4 linked regions of the Homo sapiens genome follow. The protein of the gene in region 1 purifies or fractionates together with the protein of each later gene. This does not show direct contact. Each region holds a gene or a part of one and is shown in the gene's direction. Other genes may lie near its edges.

Region 1 (3,500 bases):
TAATCCAATCTGATGGATGTCCTTATAGGAAGTTATTAGGACACAGAGAGGAATGATCATTGGAGGACTCATGGAGAAGGCAGCCATCTGCAAGCCAAGGAGAGACCTCAGGAGAAACCACCCTGCTAAATTTACCTTGATCTTGGACTTTCAGCATCTAGACTCTAAGAGAATAAGTTTCTATTATTGAAGCCACTCAAGTCTATAATACTTAGTCCTGGCAGCCCAAGAAGGCTAATGCACCAGGTGATTTTGAAGCAAACCCTAGAGTTCAGTTTGTAGATAGAAGTGCAGTAGTAACTCATCAAGACAGAAGAGTAACAAGCCTTATGTTGCTGGTCATTCTGGCCTCATCTGCTGGCTGCCTTAGGGTCTCTGGGGTGAGTTCTGAGGACCAAGTCTACACTGTCAACATGGCCACGGACGAGCTGCTCAGAGTGACAGGACAACCCTCACTGTGCTGTATGTAAACCATAAATCACAGCACACTCTTTGTGGTTGGGAGAACATGTATGGTGTTTTGGGAGCTGGCACAGTCAGGGATGTCATTCATTTCATCTGGGACAGGCTTTGTGCTCTGGGATCTGTGGCGGGAGCAGTGAGCCCAGCCATGTCCTCTGCATGCATCGCTGTGTCCTTGTGAACAGTGGATCTTTGTTAGCGCGCTTCGCACTCCTTGGCTTTTTTATCTTTCAATCAAGAACAGCAACTGCTCTTCAAATGATTCTACAGGTATGAGGGAGTTTACATTTGGATTTGTCAATGGAACCATTAGGATTTTTTGTTTGTTTGTTTTGTAAAAATAAGAACTTTTTTCCTTAGCCTTGTGTCTGTGCCAAAAATGTGACCTTTTTTTTTCTCCCAAGTGTGCCCAAACAGTAACAATTTTTTGCTTGGATTATGTTAAGAATTAGGGCATTTGACCATAGGCATTAGATGTATGTGCAATGAAAGTGATCCCCTTTAATAAGCATAATAGGAACATGGAATTTGGGCTTTTGTTTGCAGCTTAGGATGATGGTGTGTCTTGTAACCCAAGGAGGTTTTTCACTTTTCTGAAAGTGAGAAGACTGGTCAGCCTAAACCCGTGGTGTCACTGTTCTTAAGGGAAACCTAGTTGAGGAGTGGGAGATAACCATTTCACATGTTGTTTTTGTACCTTGGAGAAAAAAAAGAGAGAAGCCTTTATTTAAATCTTTATGTCTATTCTATAGTTTAAAATTCCATACAGGTTTTTTTCAAAAAATCAAATTTGCTTCCTGTGTGTTGTCACCATGAGCTCTCTGGTCAGGTGTGGAAACTGAAATGTTTCCCTTGTTGGTTTATGTGGTGGGGTACATTTTTTTTTTTTTTTTTTTTTGAGGTGGAGTCTTGCTCTGCTGCCCAGGCTGGAGTGCAGTTGCATGACCTCAGCTCACTGCAGGCTCCGCCTCCTGGGTTCAAGCAATTCTGCCTCAGCCTCCCAAGTAGCTGGGACTATAGGTGCGTGTTCCCATGCCCGGCTAATTTTTTTATTTTTGGTAGAGATGGGGTTTCCCCATGTTGGCAAGAATGGTCTTGATCTCTTGACCTCATGATCCACCCGCCTCGTCCTCCCGAAGTCCTGACCAATGTGTGCCTCTGTGTGCCACCGTGCCTGGCCAAGGGTACATGTTCTTTTTTTTTTTTTTTTTTTTTTTTTTTGAGACAGTTTTGCTCTTGCCCAGGCTGGAGTGCAGTGGCGCGATCTCGGCTCACCACAACCTCTACCTCCCAGGTTCAAGCGATTCTCCTGCCTCAGCCTTCCCAAGTAGCTGGGATTACAGGCATGCGCCACCAAGTCCGGCTAATTTTGTATTTTTAGTAGAGACGGGGTTTCTCCATGTGGGTCAGACTGGTCTCAAACTCCCAACCTCAGGTGATCCACCTACCTCGGCCTCCCAAAGTACTGGGATTACAGGCGTGAGCCACCGCACCCGGCCAAGGGTACATGTTCTTAATGAGATGCCTTGGTCAGGTCTAAGTGTCAGTTATGGTGCATGTTGATTTTCTGTCAGATGTCTGAAAATGCCCTAGATATGATTATGTCTAGCTAATTTATTACTGCCATTAGATACATCACCTTTACATAGCTTTTACTTTTCATGCTACTGGGTATAGACAATAACCATAGCCCACCTGCCTGTGCACTTCTAATATCAGGCTGAGTTCAAGTTCCTTTCTAAGGCTCCCCCTCTCACTTAGTATTGTCCGTCTTTCTTGAAAGAGGTATGTGCAGCCTCCGTGTTTGCTTTTTCCAGCACATTCTTCCACCCTCAGCATTTTATGATGAAAATTTTTGGGACAGGCACGGTGCTCACGCCTCTAATCCCAGCACTTTAGAAGGCCAAGGCAGGCAGATCACCTGAGATCAGAAGTTCAAGACCAGCCTGGCCAACATGGCGAAATGCTATCTCTACAAAAATACAAAAATAAGCAGGGCATGGTGGTGTGTGCCTGTAATCCCAGCTACTCCAGAGGCTGAGGCAGGAGAATCGCTTGAACCCGGGAGGCAGAGGTTGCTGTGAGCCAAGATTGCGCCATTGCACTCCAGCCTGGGCGACAGAGGGAGCCTCTGTCTCAAAAAAAAAAAAAAAAAAAAAATTTTTGAGTACACCAAAGTTGAAAGAATTTTGCAGTGAATACTTGCACCTAGATTCTGCCACTAACGTTGGCTATACTTGTTTTTTTTTTTTTTTTTTTTGAGACGGAGTCTCACTCTGTCACCTAGGATGGAGTGCAATGGCGTGATTTCGGCTCATTGCAACCTCCGCCTCCTTTGTTCAAGCGATTCTCCTGCCTCAGCCTCCCCAGCAGCTGGGATTACAGGCATGTGCCATCACGCCTGGCTAAGTTTTTGTATTTAGTAGAGATAGGGTTTCACCATGTTGGTGGGGCTGGTCTAGAACTCCTGACCTCAGATGATCCGCCCACCTCGGCCTCCCAAAGTGCTGGGATTACACTCATGAGCCACCCTGCCTGGCCTGGCTATACTTGTTTTATCCCATATCTAGCATTTGTTTATCACTGTACCTGCCCATCAACTCATTTTATTTTTCTGATGCATTCCTCAATAAATTGCAGACATTGTTTCACTTTGATCTAAATACATTAGCATGCATGTCATTAACTAGGGTTCAATATTTGCTTACAGTTTTCTTTTGATGTAAAATTATGTAACAATGAAATACACACTTTTTTTTTTTTTTTAAACAGGGTCTCACTCTGTCACAGAGGCTGGAGTGCCGTGGTGCAATCATGGCACACTGCAGCCTTGACTTCCCAGACTCAAGTGATCCTCCCGCCCCAGTCTCCTCAGTAGCTAGGACTAAATGGGTTTGTCACCATGCCCAGCTAATTTTTTTTATTTTTTGTAGAGACGAGGTCTCACTGTGTTGCCCAGGCTGGTCTTGAATTCCTGGGCTTAAGCAATCCTTCTGTCTCGGCCTGCCAAAGTGTTGGTATTACAGGCGTGAGCCACT
Region 2 (3,500 bases), on another chromosome or scaffold:
GTTGAGGCGGTGGGGGGGCATCACTTGATCCCGGGAGGTGGAGTTAGCGGGGAGCCAAGTTTGTGCCACTGCACTCCAGCCTGGGTGACAGAACGATACTCTTGTCTCAAAAAAAAAAAGTTTTAGCTGGGTACAGTGGCTCATGCCTGTAATATCAACACTTTGAGAGGCCGAAGTGGGTGGATTGCTTGGCCAGGGGTTCAAGACCAGCCTGGGAAACTTAGCAAAACCCTTTCTGTATAAAAAATACAAAACAAATTAGTTGGGCATGGTGGCATACACCTAAAGCCATCCTCCCACCTCAGCTTCCTGAGAGCTGCTTGATCGCTTGAGCCTGAGTTCAAGGCTGCAGTGAGCCGTGATGACACCACTGTCCTCTAGCCTGGGCGACAGAATAAGACCCTGTCTCAAAAAAAAAAAAAAGTTTCATGTTTGTGGTTTGCACAGATTATATTTCCTGTCTCCTTATAAATATAGCTAATGTCTGGAGCTTTGGCTGTCCTTTGGGAGAATGGAATCTTCCTTTAATTGTTTTCTCTCTGTTTTTATAGGAATGATGTATTTAAAATCCACTGGCTGATGGCGGCCCTTCCTTTCACCAAGTCTCTTTCCTTGGTGTTCCATGCAGTATGTATTAGCATTTTGAGGATCATTCATGAAATTACGTATAATGCCTGTGTGAGCAGGCAAAAGAAATTTGAAGAAAGGGGATAGATTGGTGGGAAACAAAGACAAAGAATACATTTCTCATAAAGCCTCCTCTTGTCTGGGAGGGCCTGGCCATGCGGGTAAATGATTACCACCTCCCCTCATATTAGACTTCAGACATCTTCTAATACTGCTTACAGACCTACAGTTTTTCTAGAACACTTATTATTGTTTTTATTTCTTTGTTTTTGGTTTGTTTTGTTTTTTTACCATTTCTAGAGATGAGAGTGCCACCTGCTGACTTGTTTCCACGACTTTTTTTTTTTTTTTTTTTTTTTTTTTTTTTTTTTTTTTTTTTTGAGACGGGGCCTCGCTCTGTTGCCCAGGCTGGAGTGCAGTGGCGTGATCTCTGTTTACTGCAAGCTCCTCCCCTCAGGTTCACGCCATTCTCCTGCCTGAGTCTCCCGAGTAGCTGGGACTACAGGCGCCCGCCACCACGCCCAGCTAATTTTTTTGTATTTTTAGTAGAGACGGGGTTTCACCGTGTTAGCCAGGATGGTCTCGATCTCCTGACCTCGTGATCCGCCCGCCTCAGCCTCCCAAAGTGCTGGGATTACAGGCATGAGCCACCACGCCCGGCCTCCACGACTTTTTTATGTTTCCAGATATTCCCTCATGTTCCTCTGTGATTTGAAGTTCAATTCAGTATTAGCATATTTATCTGAGAGAAAATTGATGCTATAAAGCTGGAGGCATGAGAATTGAGCCTCAGCTTTGTATATTTGGAACTTATGCAAATTAAAATGAACTTGCCCAAGGGGGTAAGATCACAACTTCTCCTGTCTGTGGGCCTCCAAGTGCCCGTGGAGCACACTTGCAAGGATGACAGTCTCTAGACATGTACTCTTTGCTGTACTTGAAAGTGGCCTCCTTGGAAAAGGCAATAATATATCCAGTGGCAGCGTCACCAAATGACAATGATTTGGATAATTTCCCAAATGGGTCCAAGTTAAAAGATTCTTTGTGGAGCCATGTAGATAATGAGTGATTCTGAAATGCAGTTGTTTGATTTCAGATTGACTACCACTACATCTCCTCCCAGGGCTTCCCTATCGAAGGCTGGGCTGTTGTGTACTACATAACTCACCTGTAAGTATGCAGGTCCATGTGAAATACACCATGAAATGACATACAAGACAAGGGGGGTGGGCAACAACCTGCCCCAAGTTAACCAGCCCTGCCCTCCTGTGGCAGCCTGTCTGGGCCCCTGCCATACCAGAGGAGTGTAGCTCATGGGTGGCTGTCCAGACTTGGGAAGTCGGGCTTAGTGGCATACTCCTGCCTCTCTGCGGCCATTGGCTGTCCAGGCTGTGGGGTGCAGAGCTAACTGTGTGCCCTGAAGGAAGTGGTGCTCATGTATGATGGATTTCCTAAATTTGGCTGCCCGTCTTTTGTAAGAAGCTTGTGAACTCATAGAATGAGCTATGCAATCTAACTGGCAGTGAGAGTCTAAAGAGACCTGCTGGTGTCTGTTCCTTGTTTTCTCTTCCAGTTTGAAAGGGGCGCTACTCTTCATCACCATTGCACTCATTGGCACTGGCTGGGCTTTCATTAAGCACATCCTTTCTGATAAAGACAAAAAGATCTTCATGATTGTCATTCCACTCCAGGTAAAAGAACCCTCATCCCATTTGTCACTTCCTTTCTTGGCGCTTAGCAGGGCTCAGCTCCAAGCCTGTATGGGAAGAGGGAGTCACCTCACCCTGAAACCCCAGCTTCTGCTAGTGGAGGTTGAAGACTGAGATTCTCTTTCTGAATTCTGAACAGACTTCAGGTCATTGCACTGGGAGATGCTTGGGCATCAGTCAGCCACTGGCCTTTGGGGGCCTAGATTTTGAGTAGAGAGCTGCTGACAGTGACAGGGAGACACACAGTAACACACAGTACTGTTTTCTCTTCTGCATCATTTGCTTCATAACTAAATGGTGCCCTTGGCAAGGAAGCTCAGAGATGTAGTGATTTTATTAACAAAGTATTTTAAAACCGTGAACTACACCAGTGAGTTTCCACAGGTAGAATATGGTAGTAGACGTGAGGGGCAAACATTTCCTAAATCCTTACCATGTTTGGGGCCGAGGGCCAAGGCCAGCCTTACAAGGCTGTGAGTCTTTTGCGGGAGGAGCCTTGTCTTACTGGAAGCAGAACTTGGATGTAAAGAACTTACAATGAACAGAGAGGTTTTAGCAGGGATGCACAGCTACCCTGCTCTGCTTGACCAGACAGCGTCTGTTTGACAGAGTTGTCCCTGTGAACTTTTCTCACATTTTGGAGCACAAAGTAAATGTGGAAGGTTGGGGGTGGAAGGGGACAACTCCTGAGGCACCCAGATCAGCCGTCCCAACTCTGGCAGAGTTTGCAGCAGAGCTCCTCTCGGAGTTCTAACAGACCTCATCCACCCTTACGTTCAATAATGAGGAACATGTGTTGACATCAAATGAATGGGACAGGCCAGTTGCTCTGTGTTTCCAAGGAGAGAATAAGCACTCAAGTTGGAAGGATCAAGGAGGGCTTTGTGACAGAGATAGGGCTGGCCTGGGTGTTGAAGGAAAGGAATGTGACAGAGGCAGTAAATACACATGACCCTGCTGTCTGCTAAGCAAAACATGCTGAGGGACTGTGCCGGTCTTTCGGCTGTCGAGCCACCGTGGTCACTTCTTCAGCCAGACTGAGTCCTACAGCCTGCCGAGGTCTCGGAGTTGTGAATGACGGAGACTGGGTTGTCACCCGGCTGCGTGTGCCTCTTCCCTTTAGTAGAGTCCCTCATCCCTCTAGAGTCTCCCCCCACCAGCCTG
Region 3 (3,500 bases), on another chromosome or scaffold:
AGCTCCAGAGGGAGAGTTTCAACATGGCCCTGCAGGGCTAAGTGAAGATTGCTCCATTTTCTTTATTTGTTAACAGTATAGTAATCCAGTTCCTGAACACACAAGGCAAGAATAGCACTGCCATTACTCAAGCAGAGGTGTGCCAAGAGGAAGAGCACAGCTGCTATCCTTTCTCGGAACAACACTCATTCAGTTTTCAAGGGGGGTGCTTTCCTTCTCCCTCACAGTGCCTTGGACCTTTACTCCACTTTGAGTAATTCTAGTATTGCTGCTCACATCCTGTCTTCATTATATTCACCTGAACAAGTGGATATAATGTCATCGTTCACATTCTTCCTTCTTCTTTATCCCCTATAGCTGATTGTCGCAAAAATGTCAATGTGTGTCTCACATTCACACCCCTCATCTCTGTTCCCATTCAGACCCCACCCTCACTGTGCCTGAATTTCTGAAACAGCCGCTTAATGGATCTTCATATTCCTGGTCTTTCCTGTTATAACAGACAGACTCTTCTTACCCATCACTGGCTGTGCAGTGCCTAGCACAATCCCTGGCATTTAGTAAACAATCAAAAATGCTGAACTCAACTGAATTGCTCCAGTTCATCCTCTCAGCTTCCCCTGGGGACTCTTTATAAATCCAGTTTTATTAAGACCTTCCAAGGGCTCTCACTGCCATTAGCAGTAACCACAGGCTGAAATGCACACCAGGGCTGAGCAGGTAACAAATGAACAACATAGGCTGAGTGGGGCTGGAGTGAACTGAAACCTTGTGCATGGTGGAGAAGACCAATGACTGCTCAGCTCCAGCCAAGAGTTTCCATGTGAGAATGTGGGCTTAGTGTTAGAGGCCAAGAATCTGGAATATTTTTTGTCGAGATCTCCAAATTTTTTAATGTTGATGACTAATTCAAAATTCAAGAAAAGCACTGTGAGCCAAGCAAAACACAGCTCTGGCCTGCACTTGGCCTGCAGGTTGCTGCTTTGTGACTCCTAGATCAAATTGCCATTGTCTGGGAATAAGCTCTCAGACCTAAACTTTAGTAACACATGCCTATCCAATCTCATTTCTCCCTCTTCCCAGAGCGCTAGACTGCCCTCCTTTATATCCACCGTTAGGAGATTCTCATTGCAAGTGATTCTCCTTTCAAAATCTTGAACCCAACTGTCCAAAAGTAGCCCGAACAGGTCCCTGACATAACTTCCCTTTTTCTGCTCACATAATTCCTTTTTCTTCAGCTGTCTAGATGTCAACTTTGACTTTTTTTTTTCTTCCAGAAGCCTTTCCCACGTCTTCCGAAATTATTCTCTCTTCCCAGCCTCTATCTTATCTGAATCTTTGTTTGCATTTCTAATGCTAACACCTAATTCAGGAGCTTATCGCTCACACCTGGACCACTCCAATAGTCTCCTAACTGATTTGTCAAAATTAGCCCATGTGAAACTGGTTTTGTTTCTCCTCCAACAGGAGGGTTAATTTGTTCCAACACCAGAAGATTCTCTTACTCAAAGCTGCCCCTTTGTGCGATCACTTTCCAGAACTTTGTTTTCCCATGTAAAGCCTCAATGCCCTAGCTAAAAGAGTGGGAGGGGGTCAGGCCTGGAGAAATTGCTGTCTCTCAGCTTGCATCCTTACATACAGTGGGCGCTCAATGAATACTTGTGGACACATTCTTTTTTCTTTTTGAGATGGAGTCTTGCTCTGTCACCCAGGCTGGAGTGTAGTGGTGCGATCTCGGCTCACTGCAGCCTCCGCCTCCCAGGTTCAAGCAATTCTTCTGCTTCAGTCTCCCAAGTAGCTGGGACTACAGGTGCGTGCCACCACGCCCAGCTAATTTTTTGTATTTTTAATACAGATAGGGTTTCACTGTGTTAGCCAGGATGGTCTCAATCTCCTGACCTCATGATCCGCCTGCCTCAGCCTCCCAAAGTGTTGGGATTACAGGCGTGAGCCACCATGCCTGGCCTGGAAACATTCTTAAACAGCAGCAGAATTGTGACCATGCGAATTTCATGTAAGTCTATTTCACAAAGATACACTTACATATTTAGCATAGCTAAATGTAAGTAATTTAATCGTATATCATTTGCGCAGGTAAAAATTCTCCTAATAAAAATTCAGCTTAGATTATCTTTCCTGATTTTCAGTTCTGCAAACTTAGCCCCTGTGTGATTGAGACAAATTCAGTGTAGGTATAAACCTGAATTTGCACATAGACTTATATGCTGCAGAAAACTTGTTTCTCACCTTCTTTTCTGAGCACTTCTGGCTGATGCCCTCCTTTATCAAGGTTAAATGGATAAAATAGATGTGAAGATTTTTCTTGGTGGAGAAGATATCTTAAGTTTCAATAGAATGGAGGATAGTATATGACAAAGGAAAGGAAGGCCACGTGCTGCTTCTTCTAGAGCGGTTACTGCCTTAAAAACTCAAACTGTAGCTATGTTATTTAGTTGCAAAAATTTATAAAAATTTAGCTCAATCACCCACAAATTGTAACATTCTTCGGTACTATGTAATTAAATTGCATTTTAGAGACGGCATAGAGACGGCGTATTTTTTTTTTCTCCTTTTTGAGACGGAGTCTTGCTCTGTTGTGCCCAGGCTGGAGTGCAGTGACGCGATCTCGGCTCACTGCAACCTCTGCCTCCCAGGTTCAAGCGTTTCTCCTGCCTCAGCCTCCTGAGTAGCTGGGATTACAGGCACCCGCCATCATGCCTGGCTAATTTTTGTATTTTTCAGAGACAGGGTTTCACCATGTTGGCCAGGCTGGTCTTAAACTCCTGACCTCAAGTGATCCACCTGCCTCGGCCTTCTAAAGTGCTGGGATTACAGGCATGAGCCACCGCGCCTGGCTTTTAAGATGCCGCCTGACAGTTTAGTGGATATGTGAGGAGAAGAAGCCGAGCAAAAATGTGTTAAACATGTAAAAGCTTCCATCTGACTGAATAGTTGGCACATGCATTTTAATCTAGATGTATTACAACGTACCTGGGATTTGTTTTAATCAAGTATGGTGAGGCCAACAGATCAGGAGGTGACTGCCATGAAGGAAGAAGCTCTTACTCACAGTTCCCTAGAAACAGGAGGCATAACACCTCACATGGGGCCATATGGGAAAGCACCTGCGTAGGTGAAGGGGCAGAAAAAGTGAGGGGAAAGAACAGGCAAAAGACTGTATTGTGAGGCAGGGGAAAGGGCTGGCTAGGTTTGGGATTGGCTAGTTTGAATAATTTTAGAGTGCTCCAGGATTCATGAGCTGCCTATAGTTGTAGTTGTCTGATGCCTGGCCCTGGAATAATAAGGGCAGGGGAAAATTGCCTCTTGCAGGGTTAAAGCCAAATAGAGGAGGTGGTTCAGAATATGGCTCTGGATTGATTGGTTTACATATCAAAGGTGTGGTCATAGGCAAGCCAGGCAAGCCATTTACCATCTCTCAGAGTTAGCTAGTCCTGGGAGGGGCAGTCTCTGGGATTAGCAAGACCCCAAAATGTCAAACC
Region 4 (3,500 bases), on another chromosome or scaffold:
AGAGTTTTTCTCACCGCTTTAAGCTGTTATAGAAGTTTCAATAAAGAAACATTACAGGCCGGGTGCAGTGGCTCACACCTGTAATCCCAACACCTTGGGAGGCCGAGGTGGGTCGATCACCTGAGGTCAGGGGTTCGAGATCAGCCTGGCCAACACGGTAAAACCCTGTCTCTACCAAAAATACCAAAAATTAGCCAGGTGTTGTGGCGGGCCCTTGTAATCCCAGCTACTCAGGAGGCTGAGGCAGGAGAACCACTTGAACCCAGGAGGCGGAGTTTGCAGTGAGCCGAGATCATGCCACTGTACTCCAGCCTGGGTGACAGAGCGAGACTCCATCACAAAAAAAAAAAAAAGAAAAGAAAAGAAACATTACAGATAGATGAGAGCCACAAAGACGGAGCCTCCAATCTTTATGAAAAATATTATTTTGTTTTATTTTGAGATGGTGTCTTGCTCTGTTGCCGAGGCCACAGTGCAGTGGCATGAACATGGCTCACTGCAGCCTCAACCTCCTGGGCTCAGGGATCTTCTCACTTCAGCCTCCCAAGTAGCTGGGAACACATTCCGGCACCACCACACCTGGCTAGTTTTTATTTTTTAAGTTTTTGTAGAGATGGGGTTTTGCCATGTTTACCCAGGCTGCTCTTGAATTCCTGGACCCAAGCATTCCTCCTGACTCAGCCTCCCAAAGTGCTGGGATTACAGGCATAAGCCACTGTGCCTGGCAGAAAAATGATTTTAAAAATTTGGATCTTTAGTCCTGGACATCATGTAACCTGCATTTGCCTCTCCTGCGCCCCAAAGGAAATGTTATAATAATACAACACTTGTGGATTTAGAACACATTATGGAAACCAGTCATTTACTAAATGTATTGCGGAAACTGAGAATGTACTTACCATCGAGGGGGGAAAAGTGAAGGAGATGCTTTAGGAGACACCCTCAGATAAACAGGTTTCCACATTTGTGTTGGGAAACAGCAAGGGCTTCCTCAGGCTATGTGCTCAACAGGACAAAAACCTGGCCCAGAGCCACAGCAGGAGACCTACTTTATGTCTTTGAACATATTAAGACACACCTAATGTGTGGGCATTGTGGGGAGCTAATTTCTTCCCTGAATGTGACAATGAAGTTCTTTTAAGAGAAAAGAACCTTGTAGATTCAACAATTGTCAAACAATTGTGATGGAATTTTTAAAGCCAAAAAAACAAAAAAAAAATGGCAAGGCCTGATTCTTGGTTATTGTTATTGCTGTATTGGTTATTCATGGAGGAGATGAATATGAAACAATATTCTTTTTTCTTTTTCTTTTTTGCGGAGACCAGCTCAGTAGGGGAGACCCTAACCCAGCAGCGCTAGAGGAATTAAAGACACACACAGAAATATAGAGGTGTGAAGTGGGAAATCAGGGGTCTCACAACCTTCAGAGCTGAGAGCCCCAAACACAGATTTACCCACGTATTTATTAACAGCAAGCCAGTCATTAGCATTGTTTCTATAGATATTAAATTAACTAAAAGTATCCCTTATGGGAAACGAAGGGATGGGCCAAATTAAAGGAATAGGTTGGGCTTGTTAACTGCAGCAGGAGCATGTCCCTAAGGCACAGATCGCTCATGCTGTTGTTTGTGGCTTAAGAATGCCTTTCAGCGGTTTTCCGCCCTGGGCAGGCCAGGTGTTCCTTGCCTTCATTCCCGTAAACCCACAACCTTCCAGCGTGGGCGTTATGGCCATCATGAACATGTCACAGTGCTGCAGAGATTTTGTTTATGGCTAGTTTTGGGGCCAGTTTATGGCCAGATTTTAGGGGGGCCTGCTCCCAACAATTTTGAGACAGGGTCTCTGTCTGTCACCCAGGCTGGAGTGCAGTGGAGTGATCATGGCTCACTGCAGCCTCAACCTCTCAGGCTCAAGTGATCCTCCCATCTCAGCCTCCCTAGTAGCTGAGACTATAGGCATGCACCACCATGCCTGGCTAATTTTTGTATTTTTTGCAGAGTTGAGGTCTCACCATGTTGCCCAGGCTGGGCTTGAACTCCTGGCCTCAAGCACTCCTCCCACCTCAGCCACCCAAAGTGCTGGGATCACAGGCATGAGCCACCACGCCAGGCCTGAAACAATTTTCAAGGAAGAATGAGAAGTGGTCTTTGGGATACCTTGGGTTAATATTTCTGACAAATAAGTTGGAATCTAGAAAGATATACTCTCACTTGTAAGTTACAGCGAAATCTGGTTTGTTGTTCCAAGATTATTGATATTCTGTGGAGTGATCCCAGAGGCAAAAATGGCTGTTTTCCAAATACGTGCCGAGGAGGGGGCTGCTATTTTGGACCAGATGTTACTTCCAAGATTCTTAATAAATACCAGTTGAAGATGCTCATCAGGTCTCATGAATGTAAGCCCGAAGGGTATGAAATCTGTCATGATGGGAAGGTAAGCTAAAATTGTTGGTGACATTCCCATAAACATCCTTCCCCTAAGCACAGTCTTTTCTTCACAGAGCATGTCTGGCCTAGAAGCCCATGAGAAGATGTCTTCTCTAGTACCAAACAGAAACCAGAGAAGGCGAGCTTCATCTAGGTTGTTTGAAGGGGCCTCACTGTCCCTTATCCTAAAAGATATTTGGTTTATTTCCCTGATCTTCCCTAATCCCAGAAACAGAAATTCTTTTTTTTTTTTTGAGATGGAGTCTCACTCTGCCACCCAGGTTGGAGTGCAGTGGTGTGATCTCAGCTCACTGCAACCTCCGCCTCCCGGGTTCAAGTGATTCTCGTGCCTCAGCCACCCAAGTAGCTGGGATTACAGGTGTGCGCCACCACACCCAGCTAATTTTTGTATTTTTAGTAGAGACAGGGTTTCACCATGTTAGCCAGACTGGTCTCAAACTCCTGACCTCAGGTGATCCGCCTGCCTCGGCTTCCCAAAGTGCTGGGATTACAGTCGTGAGCCACCGCGCCTGGCCCCAGAAACAGAAATTCTGATACATGGCACTAAGTAGACACACAGAAAGGCTTGGTTCTTATAAGGCAACTGTCCCATACAGTGGGGTTGAGAATGTCCTTTTCCTCACAGAGCGCATAAAAGGCAGCAGTGAATCCAGTTTGCTCTTGCACTTTTTACATGTTCCCTGTGCAGGGCCCAAAACACAAAACACACTTCCCTTCAGCTCCCTGAGTAGGTGACCTCCAGCAAGTTGCTCACTGTAGTCAGTTTAGCTGCAGCCACTAAAACGGAGTGTGTTGTGTTCCTTCAGTGGTGTCTGATCAAAGGCTAAAAGAGGTGAGGACCGAGGAGCTGGTTTCTTGTCCCAAGTTGTTCTGGGATGCACCGTTTCTTTTTTTTTTCTTTTTTCTTTTTTTTGAGACAGAGTCTCGCTGTGTTGTCCAGGCTGGAGTGCAGTGGTGCAATCTCGGCTTACTGCAACCTCCGCCTCCCGAGTTCAAGTGATTCTCTTGCCTCATGCTCCCGAGAAGCTGGGATTACAGGCGCCCGCCACTACG

What was found. The genes of interacting proteins can lie anywhere in the genome.
Region 2: the proteins of CCM2 (region 1) and GPR107 purify together in Homo sapiens (affinity purification with mass spectrometry; one large-scale study listed by BioGRID and IntAct). This does not show direct contact.
Region 3: the proteins of CCM2 (region 1) and SQOR purify together in Homo sapiens (co-immunoprecipitation; one large-scale study listed by IntAct). This does not show direct contact.
Region 4: the proteins of CCM2 (region 1) and PPEF1 purify together in Homo sapiens (affinity purification with mass spectrometry; one large-scale study listed by BioGRID and IntAct). This does not show direct contact.

What each region holds. Positions count from the first base shown.
Region 1 is NC_000007.14:45,006,701-45,010,200, forward strand, and holds part of CCM2 (cerebral cavernous malformations 2 protein), read left to right. Parts: intron 1-3,500. UniProt on the Homo sapiens protein: Component of the CCM signaling pathway which is a crucial regulator of heart and vessel formation and integrity. May act through the stabilization of endothelial cell junctions. May function as a scaffold protein for MAP2K3-MAP3K3 signaling.
Region 2 is NC_000009.12:130,098,906-130,102,405, forward strand, and holds part of GPR107 (protein GPR107 isoform 3 precursor), read left to right. Parts: intron 1-551; coding exon 552-627; intron 628-1,723; coding exon 1,724-1,797; intron 1,798-2,200; coding exon 2,201-2,318; intron 2,319-3,500. UniProt on the Homo sapiens protein: Has been proposed to act as a receptor for neuronostatin, a peptide derived from the somatostatin/SST precursor.
Region 3 is NC_000015.10:45,641,529-45,645,028, forward strand, and holds part of SQOR (sulfide:quinone oxidoreductase, mitochondrial), read left to right. Parts: intron 1-3,500. UniProt on the Homo sapiens protein: Catalyzes the oxidation of hydrogen sulfide with the help of a quinone, such as ubiquinone-10, giving rise to thiosulfate and ultimately to sulfane (molecular sulfur) atoms.
Region 4 is NC_000023.11:18,801,645-18,805,144, forward strand, and holds part of PPEF1 (serine/threonine-protein phosphatase with EF-hands 1), read left to right. Parts: intron 1-2,247; coding exon 2,248-2,433; intron 2,434-3,500. UniProt on the Homo sapiens protein: May have a role in the recovery or adaptation response of photoreceptors. May have a role in development.